Linked DNA regions of Homo sapiens. The protein of the gene in region 3 interacts with the protein of the main gene of each other region in a pairwise test. Each region holds a gene or a part of one and is shown on either strand. Other genes may lie near its edges.

Region 1 (3,749 bases), on a different chromosome or scaffold from region 3:
AACCTCCCTGCCTTCCACCAATAGCCTGGCTTTGCCCAACCCTCTGCTCCAGGGACCTAAGTCTTGGCGTCCACGCCCCTGTCGCAGAGACGCACCTTGAAGCCGTCGTCTGACGCGATGATGAGCACCTCGAAGGGCTGCCCGCGCTGGAAAGGAACGCCCGGCCCGCGCTCCTCGCGGCCCCAGGAGCCTTGCTCCTTGCTGTTGAAGACCACCTCCGACGTGTCCAGCCGGGGGTTGAAATGCAGCGCGGCATCGGAGCCCTGCTCCTCCCCGCACAGCAGGTTTACATGGAACCTGGAAGAGGAGGATGGTGGCCGTCAGGGCTCAGAAACCACCCAGACCAAGAAATGTTGAGGGTGAGGAATACCGATGTCTACAATTTACTTTGAATGAATAAGTAAATGAAATGTTGGCTGGGTGCAGTGGCTCACCCTGTAATCCCAGCACTCTGGGAGGTGGAGAAGGGAGGATCGCTTGGGCCCGGAAGTTAAAGACCAGCCTGGGCAACATAGCGAGACCCCACCTTACAAAAAAACGAAAGAACAAACAAAACATAAACCGCCCAGACCAAAGTGAAGGTCTTATGGACTGGCACTCCCCATTCCCAGAGTACCCCCAAATTAACAGGGACCTGAAGACAGGCACACACCGCAGAAGGAGAGGTAGGCGACTAATGACCAGGGAGCTTAGATTCCCAAGGCAGCCAAAATATCATGAGGCCCTTGGCAGAAACCTACCCAGACCAAACTCACTACGCTTAGGGCAGGGTGCCCTCATTTCCAAAGAGCCTGGGAGCTGCCCAGGAGGTCTGGGTGATAGCCAGGGTGCTCCTGATGCTCAGGGAACCCTCAGCTTCTACAGGACAAAGAATAATACCAGGAACCCCAGTATTTCCAGGGTACCTCAGAATCCAGAAGGCCCGAAGTTCCTTAGCCAGGAAGTCAAAGGATGGCTTGGCAAGGACTCCCAGGGTCCAGGGTGTCTCCAGGACTTGGAGTATTTCCAGAGTTCCCTGGGACTCAGACATGGAAGTCATAGGACTATATCTAGGAACCCTGAGATTACCCAGGGACCTCAAATGCTTAGGGAAACTTAGGGACCCCAGCCACAAAGGCACGGGGGCAAATACGAATACATCAGATTTGAGGTCAGAAATGGCCTCGGACTCCTAGCCTGGTGGATACAGGTGGCCTCGGGCCCCTACTTCTGGACTGCAAAAATTGGGAGTCAGCTGATCCTGAGACCTGTACCCTTTACCCCTAGGGCCTGGGGCCTCACCTGCTGGCATTGGGAGGAACCAAGCCGCGAATTCTCAGCACCGTGCCAGGGCGGATGCCCTCGGGCAGTGAGGACTTGTGGGGGACGTTCTGCAAGAGTGGGGTGCAGGGGCCACTGTGAGCCGGTGAGACCGAAGGAGGGAGGCAGAAGGTGGGTCACCCCTCAGAGGAGCCGACCAGGGCTGAGACTGGCAGAAATCAGTGGAAGAGGAAAGGGTGGCGGAGAGGCAGGAAAGAGACCAGAAACAGACAGGGAAACAGATGGGGAGAGCAACAAAGACAAACAGAAAGATCCTCAAAGAGGGCCCCAGAGGAAGCCACAAAGAGGTAGAGGGGACAGTCGGGATGGGGGTTACCCGGAGGCCACAGCCCAGGCCAGTCCGTGGCACACTCACTGCCCACTTGCTCCTTTGAAAGAGGAGCCCCCAGCCCCCTCCCTGCTTGGCCCCGCCCCGGGCCCCTGGAGCACTCACGGACATGGCTGGGACCGGGTTGGGCAGCCGTGGTGGTGGGGCCTGCTGGGGACCTTAAATAAAAGCAGGGCGGGGCTGGCCCTGATGACTCACCCCACCCCTTCCCACCCACCACCCACACCTGGCACGGACCCTGGCCCTGGGGCAAGCCCGGCGAAGCGGGAGTGGCACCTCTTCTTGGGGGCCCTGATCCCCCCATCACCCAGGGCCCGGGTGCACTGCCCCTCTCCTAGGAGCTGATAATAAGAGGGAATGTTTAATAGTAATAAACTCACAGCAGAGAAGGCTCCTTGTGCCACTGCCCCTCCACCCCTGTCTTCCCGCTGCCTGGCACACGGAGAGCCTCTATCTCATTTCATGTATTTATTTGTTAGTAATTTCTCTTATTTTATACACAGACATATTAGGTCCTGGGAGGCCAATCTGGGTGGGAACTCCAGACCCTTCTCTCCAGCTGAGAACCTCCTGCCTGGACTGATCCGTGCTGAAATCTAAGCTTCTGCCTCTGTAATGGAACAGCGGCCACAATAGGAGCACTAGTGACTGACAGGGTGGCTTCATGGGTTCACAGGGGGCCTGCCTGATCCCCTCAGCGCTGCACCCCTGGGTCCTGGAGTGTGCCCAGTTCATGGAAGTCCTCAGTCAGGAGGGGTGAAAGGAGGGGATCCACTAGGACTATGCCTGTCATTTCCAAGGCCCCTCGGCTGCCCAGGAGATGCAGGAAATCACTGATTGGGACCCCATCATTCCAACAGGGAGGAGTATGGGTCACCCCCATTGTACAGAGGAGGAGGCTGAAGCTGGGATGGGAAGCGATTTGCCAAAGGCAGGAGCGTGCAGGACCCGTTGCCCTGACCTCTGGCTCTCCTCACCTCTGCTCGCACCTCTCCTGTGGGTTCTGTCTCTGGGGCTGGCTGTCTCACTCTGTCCGTCTCTGCCCCTAACTCTGTCTACCACATATTCCTGTCCCACTTCTCTCCTTCAAGTCTCTCTTCTTCCTCCTTCCAGGACTGCTACCATCATGCCACCAAGTTTGTAGGTCAGGATGAGGTGGGTTTTGGGGTGGTGGGTGGCCTAGCATTCCATCACCACCTAGATCAAAAGCAGAGCAAGGCGGGGACCCTCCCGCCAGGCCCGAAACAGCCCCCTTGGGCCTAAGACTCTGCAAGAGAACTCAGGGTTGGGGAATTGGCTTGGTGGAGGGGCGGGTAGGGCTGAAAGATGCTTCTGAAAGGCAGGGATGGTGTGGGAGCTGAGCAGAAACCACTCCTAGCAGCCCAGCAGCCCTCCTGGACCTTTTCCACTCGCCACTCCAGCTCCTGCCCCACCCAGCAGGCTGCTGAGAGGCCTGGGCAGAGGCAGGCTGGCAGTGGAAAGTTTGGGTGGAGACAGCAGACCCAGAACCATCCTCCACCCTCTGCGTCCCAGGCCCCCAGCCTCTCGCCCCCTCCCCACACACTCCAAGGCACCAAGCTCAGGGACCAGTTCTTGGGAACATGAGCTCAGAGAGGGAGGCTAGCAGCTGCATTTCAGTAGGGGCTGCAAGCACCCCCATTCTGCAGAGGACAAAACTGAGGCTTAGACAGGGGCCACCTCTCAGTCAAGGAAGAGGCCAGCCCCTCAGCTCCAGAGGGGTCTTTGTGCCAAGGACATGTCATGGGCACGGACAGAGAGGATAGCAGGGTGTCCGGTGATCATACCACCAGCCCAGCTCAGTTAGTTCCCGAGAATGTTCCCCTGAATGGTGGACTCCATTGTTCTAACATTATTGACCATTCTAAAGAAGACACTCTCGCCTGGGCAACACAGCAAGACCTCATCACTACAAAAAATAAAAATAAAATAAAATAGCCCAGTGGGTTGGCGCACATCTGCCTGTAATTCCAGCTACTTGGGAGGCTGAGGCAGGAGAATTGCTTGAGCCCAGGAGATCAGAGGCTGCAGGGAGCTATGATCACACCACAGCTCTCCAGCCTGGGCAACACAGTGAGACCTC
Region 2 (3,749 bases), on a different chromosome or scaffold from region 3:
CTTCTCCTTCGGATCCGGCTCCTCCACCCCCTTACTGTCGCCCTCCATCCCCCTTCCTTCTCCACCTCAAACCAGGTCTCACACCCAACCCCCTTTCGCTAGGAACCAGGCACATGCCCAAAGGCCTTCCAAAGTCCTTCCCTTGCAGGAGGTTGCGAGGGCTAAAGGCATAATCTGAATTCAAGTTCCCTTCTCTCTAGCTGAGTTTTCCCATATTGAAAGGAGACTTGACTCCTTTTCAATGGATCCAACCTCCTTCCACAAGGAATTCTTGTACTTCCCTAAATCTTATGACCTTACCTGGCATGACATATATGTCATCCTCTCCTCTACCCTCACCCTGGAGGACAGGGAACACATCTTTATGGGTGCCCAGGTCCATGAGAACACCCTCCACCAACAAGATGCTGCTCATAATCCAATAGGGACCCTAGCTGTCCCCAGAACTGGCCCCAGTTGGAATTATCAGGCAACTTCAGTAGACAGACAGAAATCAGGCCATATGATATCATGCCTTCTAGCTGGCATAAATAAAGCTGTCCCTGCTCGTTTCCTCTCCTGCCTTTCAAAAGTCACAACTAAATATGCCACCTTAAGCCCTAATACCAATAAGGGCAAAAACTACCTCCATTTATACTTTATCTCCCAGTCAGACCCAGACATTTGAAAAAAACTTAAAAAACTGGAGGGTGGCCCTCAAACCTTCCAAAGAGACTTAATCAAAGTGGCCTTCAAGATCTATAAGATTAGAGAGGAAGAACTAAAAAATCCAAACCTAAAGAAGGACCAGGCTAAATACCAAATGCTGGTAGCTGCCACTCAACAGGGTTCCCAAGGCCTACAGAATTCCTCAACTTGGCAACAGTCAACTCCAGGAGCCTGTTACAAGTTCGTCTAACAGGGACACTGGGCAAAAGCCTAGCCTAATCCCAGGACACTCTGGAAATCTTGCCCCATCTGTGGTATCAAGCAACACTGGAAGTCAGACTGTGCTCACTGAAACTCTTCATCCTGCTTCACCACCTGTACCTGAAGACAGGTGGGGCCTGGAGTCCACCGCCCCTACTGCCATCACCACCTCGGAACCCAGGGTAATTCTGTCAGTCTCTAGTAAGCCCATGTCTTTCCTATTGGATACTCAATAGGACAACTAGTTACTCAGTTTGACCAGAATATTCTAGACCCTTTTTCTGTTCTTCGATCTCTATTGTGAGAATCAATAAAATCCCCTCTAGGCACAGACTGGTCCTTTATTATACAACCTATTCAGCAGCCCCCTTCACCCACTCTTTCCTGGTTATCCCTCAGTCCCCTACCCCTATCTTGGGATGGGACATATTAAGTAAATTCCAGAACTCCATGCAATGTGGCTCCTACAATTCTACCCCTTTTATTTTACTCTGACACCCAAACGCTTCCCTCTCCCCCCACTCATCCTCATTATCCACCCTGTTACCTTCTGTTAATTCTAAAGCTTGGAATGTTTCTAAACCCACAATAGCCACACATCACATCCCAGTTAAAATAACCCTTCAAAACCCCTCCATTTTCCTTCATCAGTCTCAATATCCCCTTAATCCAGCCTTGCTTAGGGGGTCTCAAACCTATTATCTGTAAACTTTTACAAGCTCATATTCTCAAGCCTGTTAACTCTCCCCACAACACCCCTATTCTGGCTTTCCAAAAGACAGACGGGACTTACCCCTTTGTCTAGGATCTCCAAGTCGTTAACCAGGCCGTGGTACCAATCCATCTAGTGGTCCTCAACCAATATACTCTACTCTACCGTATTGCCCCATCTACCACACACTCCTTTGTATTGAACTAAAAGACAACTATTTCACTATTCCCTTAAATCTGGCTTACCAAAGTCTTTTTGCTTTGACTTGGTCAAATCCTAATACTCACATGTCCTGTACTCTTACAGGACTTACACATGGACTTACACCTAGACTGTACTCTTAGAGGGGTTCCGGGATAGGCCCCACCTGTTCAGACAGGCCCTCATCAAGGACCTAGCTGAACTTCCCCTTGCTCCTAGTACCCTCCTCCAGTATGTCAATGACCTCCTTCTCTGTAGCCCCTTTCTTAACCTGTCCATTCAACACACCACTCAGGTTTTAAACTTCCTTCATAATCAAGTATATTGGGCCTAACCCACAAAATCTCAGGTACCCAAATCAAAGTTACTTACCTTGGGTTTGTTCTAACCCCTAATTCTCGAGCCATCCCAACCCAATGAAAGGAGCCAATTTGGGACATGCCCCTTCCCCACATAAAAAAAAAGGACCTCCCCTCCTTCTTGGGCCTTGTGGGATACTTCTGGCTGTGAATTCCTAACTTTGACTTGCTGGCCAAGCCACTATACGTAGCCTCACATGGGCCCATCCTAAAACCCCTGAACCCAGCTTGCCCCATCAACTCCAACTTAAAAACTTAAAAATGCCCTTTTAATGGCCCTGGCACTGGGACTGCCAAACCTCACCAAGCCTGTTACTTTCTATGTACATTCTGACCAGCGCCTTGCCCTTGGACTACTCTGCCAAACATATGGCAACGCCCCAGAAGCCATTGCACGCCTCTCAAAACAACTGGACTCTGTCATCCGAGGCTGGTCACTCTGACTAAAAATCTTGGGTATGGCCACATTGCTGGCCTTAGATGCACGGAAACTCCCTCTCTACCAACACATTACTATTGCATCTTCCCATTATCTACAGGACCTCATAAACCACCAATCCCTTCTATCCCTCCCACCATCCTGCTTACAGCAGGTGCATGCCTTATTCATAGGTAACCCTCTAATCACCTTCCAGAGACATAAAATTCTCTACCCAGCCACCCTTCTCCCTGTAAACACTTCCGACTCTAAGCTCTCTCACTCCTGTCTGGACCTCTTAGACTCCCTCTCCTCCCCCTTCCAACACATTTCAGATGCCCCTTTGCAGGGAACACATACACGGTTAGTTAATGGAACCTCTTTTAGGCAGCCATGTCCAGCAGCTGGCTATTCCATCAGTGCTGAAGATAAACTCCTAGAATCGAATGCTCTCACACCCCATGCTACCTCTCAACAGGCAAAGCTAGTTGCCCTAACCAGGGCCCTCACCCTAGCAAAGGGAAAGAGGGTCAACATTTACACCCATTCCAAATATGCATACCATGTCCTACAGTCTCATGCCTTCATCTGGCAGGAACAGGGTTTCCTAACTACAAAAGGAACCCCCATAAGAAATGGCAAACTTACACATAAGCTGTTGGGGGTGGATAAACCACCACCAAAGGCCACCATTATCCATTGCAAGGGACACCGAAAGGCTACAGATGCCAAAACCGAGAAAAACCTTTCAACAAATTCGGCAGCCTGGCAGGCAGCCCTTAAAACCCCATCGTTATTGCTCATTTTTTTTCCCAGCATACACCCTGTATATACCCAGCAGGAAAAAAACCCACTTGCCCAGGCTGGTGCCATTCAGGAAAAAATAGTTCGATCTCACTGATAAAGTGTCTTGCCCAAGTTTAAAAAACCTTCTGTACTTTCATATGTGCACAACCATTTCCATGCCGGTTACTGCCCCTACTCCAGCTTTTAAAAACTTCTAGACATTCTTCCACCATGGTTGCCCATCTCAGAGATATTACTAAGGCATGTTCCCTTTGCACTCAAACTTCCCCTCAGGAAGCTATCAAACCATCTCCTTTCCCACACACCAGACCTGAGGACACTTACTAGGGCAGGACTAGCAAAT
Region 3 (3,749 bases):
TCCTTTTCACTTTTTTCTTTTTCTACTTTATCTTTTTTCTCTTTCTTTGACTGTGTAGGAGGCACAAACTGCTGAGTAACCTGCTGTGCAACCAACTGGGAGACAGGTCGAGGTTTCCTGTGTGCATGTTAAAAAGAAAGGTATTTTAAATTACAACTTAAAACATAAGTGCTTTATGACAGAATATCTCACATTATGAAAACAAGTTAATAACAATAACTTTCAAGTATAAAAATTCCTCATATGTAAGGTAATTTAAATATACAATTTTAAAGATATGTATCAGTTTTTCCCGTTCAACAAAAATGGAACAAACTATAACAATTAAAATTTATAGTCTAAGATATATGCTCAAACATTAGAATACTGTTACGTAAATCAACATAAGAAATTATTTTAAATGTATATCAAAAAAAATGGGATGTACCCATATAAACATGAGTTCTAAAAATCAAACTTCAAAGTTTTCACTGAAATAATAATTTATCCCTCCTTCAGAGAAGGAAATACCTGACCATTTGTGACAATGGCTATCTGTTCTTTAAAGCTTTTCATTTATTCATTTAATAAACATTTATTATCAAAATTTCTCACTCCTTATTGCTTAAATCCTTTAAGTTTCTTACATCTCCAGCCACAATCTCACCATGCTCTTTTGACCCTGGAGATCTGCCCAGTCTTTTGAGACTCATCTACTTGCTAACTTACTCATTTAGAAAATATTTATTGAGGACCTACTGTAAGAACTGTTCAGGGATATCTGAAATGTTGCCTGGCTTCAACATCTGATGCTGGTACAAGCTTTCACCTGTCCAGCTTTGCCACAGAACTTGCACAACTGAGGTTAAGGTTCAAAATACAGTCTCTAAGTTCTTAAGAGAGAAAGAAGGATATAGCAAGGAAAGAGGCAGAGGGAAGGAGGGAAGAAGTAAGATAAAAATACATTTTAACAGATGCTCTACAAACAATGGTAACTTTATTGCCTGAAAAATCCTCACCCTTTTTTGGTTAGTACAGTTTTTAAAAAATCTTTTTTTCTCCTGTTCCTCTATGGCAAGACAACATAAAAAATAATGAGAAAATATTGTACAATCTAAGAATTAAAGCTGCATGGCTGAGAGAAAATAGGAAACAGTATGTAAAGCAGATATCAGGAGATGGATAATGAATTTTGCTCAGGGCCTAGACAGTCTGAACTACTGAAAGGATATCCAGGACAGATGTCCAATATACAACTTAAAAAATAGGACTGACATAGAGTTTGAGATGTAGATTAAGAGTTGCACAAATAAAAGTGATATTGAAAGTATGGTAGTTAATGGCTGAGGTTAAAAAAGAAAAGGGTTAAGGTGGTGGTTTTCAAATATAAGGTACATCAGAATCACCAAGAAGGCTTGTTTAGCTTGCTTAGCCCTACCCCGCAGGATTTCTGATTCAGTAGGCCTTGAAGTAGAGCCCAAGAAACTGTATTTCTAACTAGTTTCCAAGTTATGCTGATGTCTCTGGGGACCACACTTTAAAAAAAAGCTTGAGGAAATGCAATATATCTGGTGAATACTGTTACTACTATAAGATAAAGTTTGAGATGGAGAGCAGAGTGGCAGAGTGAAAAAAAACCAAGCTGGACAGATAAGAAGGGATCCCATGATTAAAAGCTAAGCAGTCTGATTTTATCCTTAAGTGATGATAAGTCACTGAAGAAATTCAGACTTGAATTTTACAAAGATTACTGGCATTAGTCTGAAATAGAAAGGTACTACACTACAGTAGAAGTAAAAATGTGAGACTAGTGGTCTAATAAATGATCATGTAATCTCTGTACCTAGTGTTGTTTGTTGTTATTTTCTAACCATCAACAAATTTTCTATAGTGGTTCTTTTTTTCTGTTCTTGAGTAGTTGCATATCTTTCTCTTTTTATCCTAGGCTTACCTAAATGTATACTACACAACTATTCCATTTTTATTCTTATTTTAATGTGAAGGTTGATTTTCACTTAAAGATTATGATTTTGTACCTCAATTCTATGATTATTTCATCTGGTTCAATTCTGAGAGAAAAGAAGCACAAAACATAAATGTATATAGTTCAATTATTCAAATAAAGTTCTCTGCTGCTCTCTAGGAGCTAAAGAGCTTTCACTGAAGGTAGGAGGAACACAGTTTATGATGATCTTTTTACAACATCGTAAGTCACTCAACTCCATGCCCTATTAAAAATAAAGCCCTTCTATCTCCAGGTATCTTAAGGTTTGTGATCCCTTTTCTATTTGATGAGAAAAATCAGGATAGGAGGAAATTTTAGAGGTAGGAAATAGTTAACTCAGGAAATAAAGGGCAGAGTATCATTTATAAAATATACCCTTTTATGTTCACAGATTTATCACTCATGGTTTTGACAGTACACTTTTAGTAATGCCAAAGGTTCTGTGATAAGGAGTTGATGTGCACAAAATGGTTGCCTAGTTAATAAATGACTACTGTCTAGCCACTGGCCAACTACAGTCCATCATCTACTTATTCACATATGCCATGATTAGACTGTATTTGTCAGATATGATATTCACCAATTTGGGGATCCCTATGTATCTTTCATAGATAGCCCAAATAGAAGGTATAAGTTTTGCAGTCTGTTGATTTACTATAATGTAAGAAAAGGGGGAACATTTTATTACGCATTAGGACAAAATATTTTTGGAGCTGGCTGACCTTCTGTGTGAGCAGGAGGTCAATACATGTTGGCTTCATATATGCAATTTTCAACTACGGTCTGCCTTCCACCCCCACTGACAAAAATCCCATGTGCTAAATATTAGAGGAATAATATTTTCAGCTTGATCAACTTCATCATAATTTAGCTTTGTCATGTTGGACAGGTAAGATGAAAGAAAGGAAAGAAAGAAAAAGAGTATTAAAAACAATGACATTCTTTACTAAAAAGAGGCAGCATAACTCAAATTTCAAAAGAAGTAATCTGCTTAGTAACACCAAAATATATGGTAAATTGAAGCGATATGGTAAATCTCATCAAAAAAAAAAGGCTGGACTAAATCCATACATATTGTGAATCTGTTGATACTCTGGCTAACAAACGCCCAAAAATCTAACCTAGGAAAGATTTTATAAAAAACCACCTGTTTACAACCAAGCGTGGTGGCTCACACCTGTAATCCCAGCACTTTGGGAGGCCAAGGCAGGCAGATCATTTGAGTCCAGGAGTTCGAGGCCAGCCTGGGCAACATAGTGAAAACCCATCTCTACAAAAAAAATACAGAAATTGGCCAGTAAAGGTACGCGCCTGTAGGAGGCTGAGGTGGAAAAATCGCTTGAGCCCAGGAGGTGGAGGTTGCAGTGAGCCACGATCACACCACTGCATTCCACCCTGGGTGACAGAGTGAGACCCTGTCTTCTGGAACAAAAAAAAAAAAAAAAAAGAAAAGAAACTACTTGTTTGATAAATTTTATTGCACATTTACATGTGTCAGGCACTAGGTAAGGAGATTAACCATGAACAAGACAAACATAGGCCCTGCCCTCATGCGCTAAAAATTAAAAACAAAAAAACTGTGTGTTGTGATAGAGAAAACAGGAGGAGGAGTTATTATAGACAGAGAGGAAATAACTTCTGTCCATGTTTAAATGGTCAGTATACCAGGAGAAACAGGTATCACAATGGACCCTTTTAATAAGAGAACAATGAAACGACTTCATTAAGCATTTTATTAAGACTTTAAAAGAGAGTAAACCCAATT

The links.
Region 1: the proteins of YAF2 (region 3) and LGALS7 interact in binary tests that used the Homo sapiens proteins (3 or more experiments, as listed by UniProt).
Region 2: the proteins of YAF2 (region 3) and SPANXN2 interact in binary tests that used the Homo sapiens proteins (3 or more experiments, as listed by UniProt).

Annotation. Positions count from the first base shown.
Region 1 is NC_000019.10:38,771,734-38,775,482, forward strand, and holds the start of LGALS7 (galectin-7), read right to left. Parts: upstream 1,785-3,749; 5' UTR 1,760-1,784; coding exon 1,754-1,759; intron 1,371-1,753; coding exon 1,282-1,370; intron 298-1,281; coding exon 96-297; intron 1-95. UniProt on the Homo sapiens protein: Could be involved in cell-cell and/or cell-matrix interactions necessary for normal growth control. Pro-apoptotic protein that functions intracellularly upstream of JNK activation and cytochrome c release.
Region 2 is NC_000023.11:143,714,076-143,717,824, forward strand, and holds part of SPANXN2 (sperm protein associated with the nucleus on the X chromosome N2), read right to left. Parts: intron 1-3,749.
Region 3 is NC_000012.12:42,161,649-42,165,397, forward strand, and holds part of YAF2 (YY1-associated factor 2), read right to left. Parts: intron 118-3,749; coding exon 1-117. UniProt on the Homo sapiens protein: Binds to MYC and inhibits MYC-mediated transactivation. Also binds to MYCN and enhances MYCN-dependent transcriptional activation. Increases calpain 2-mediated proteolysis of YY1 in vitro.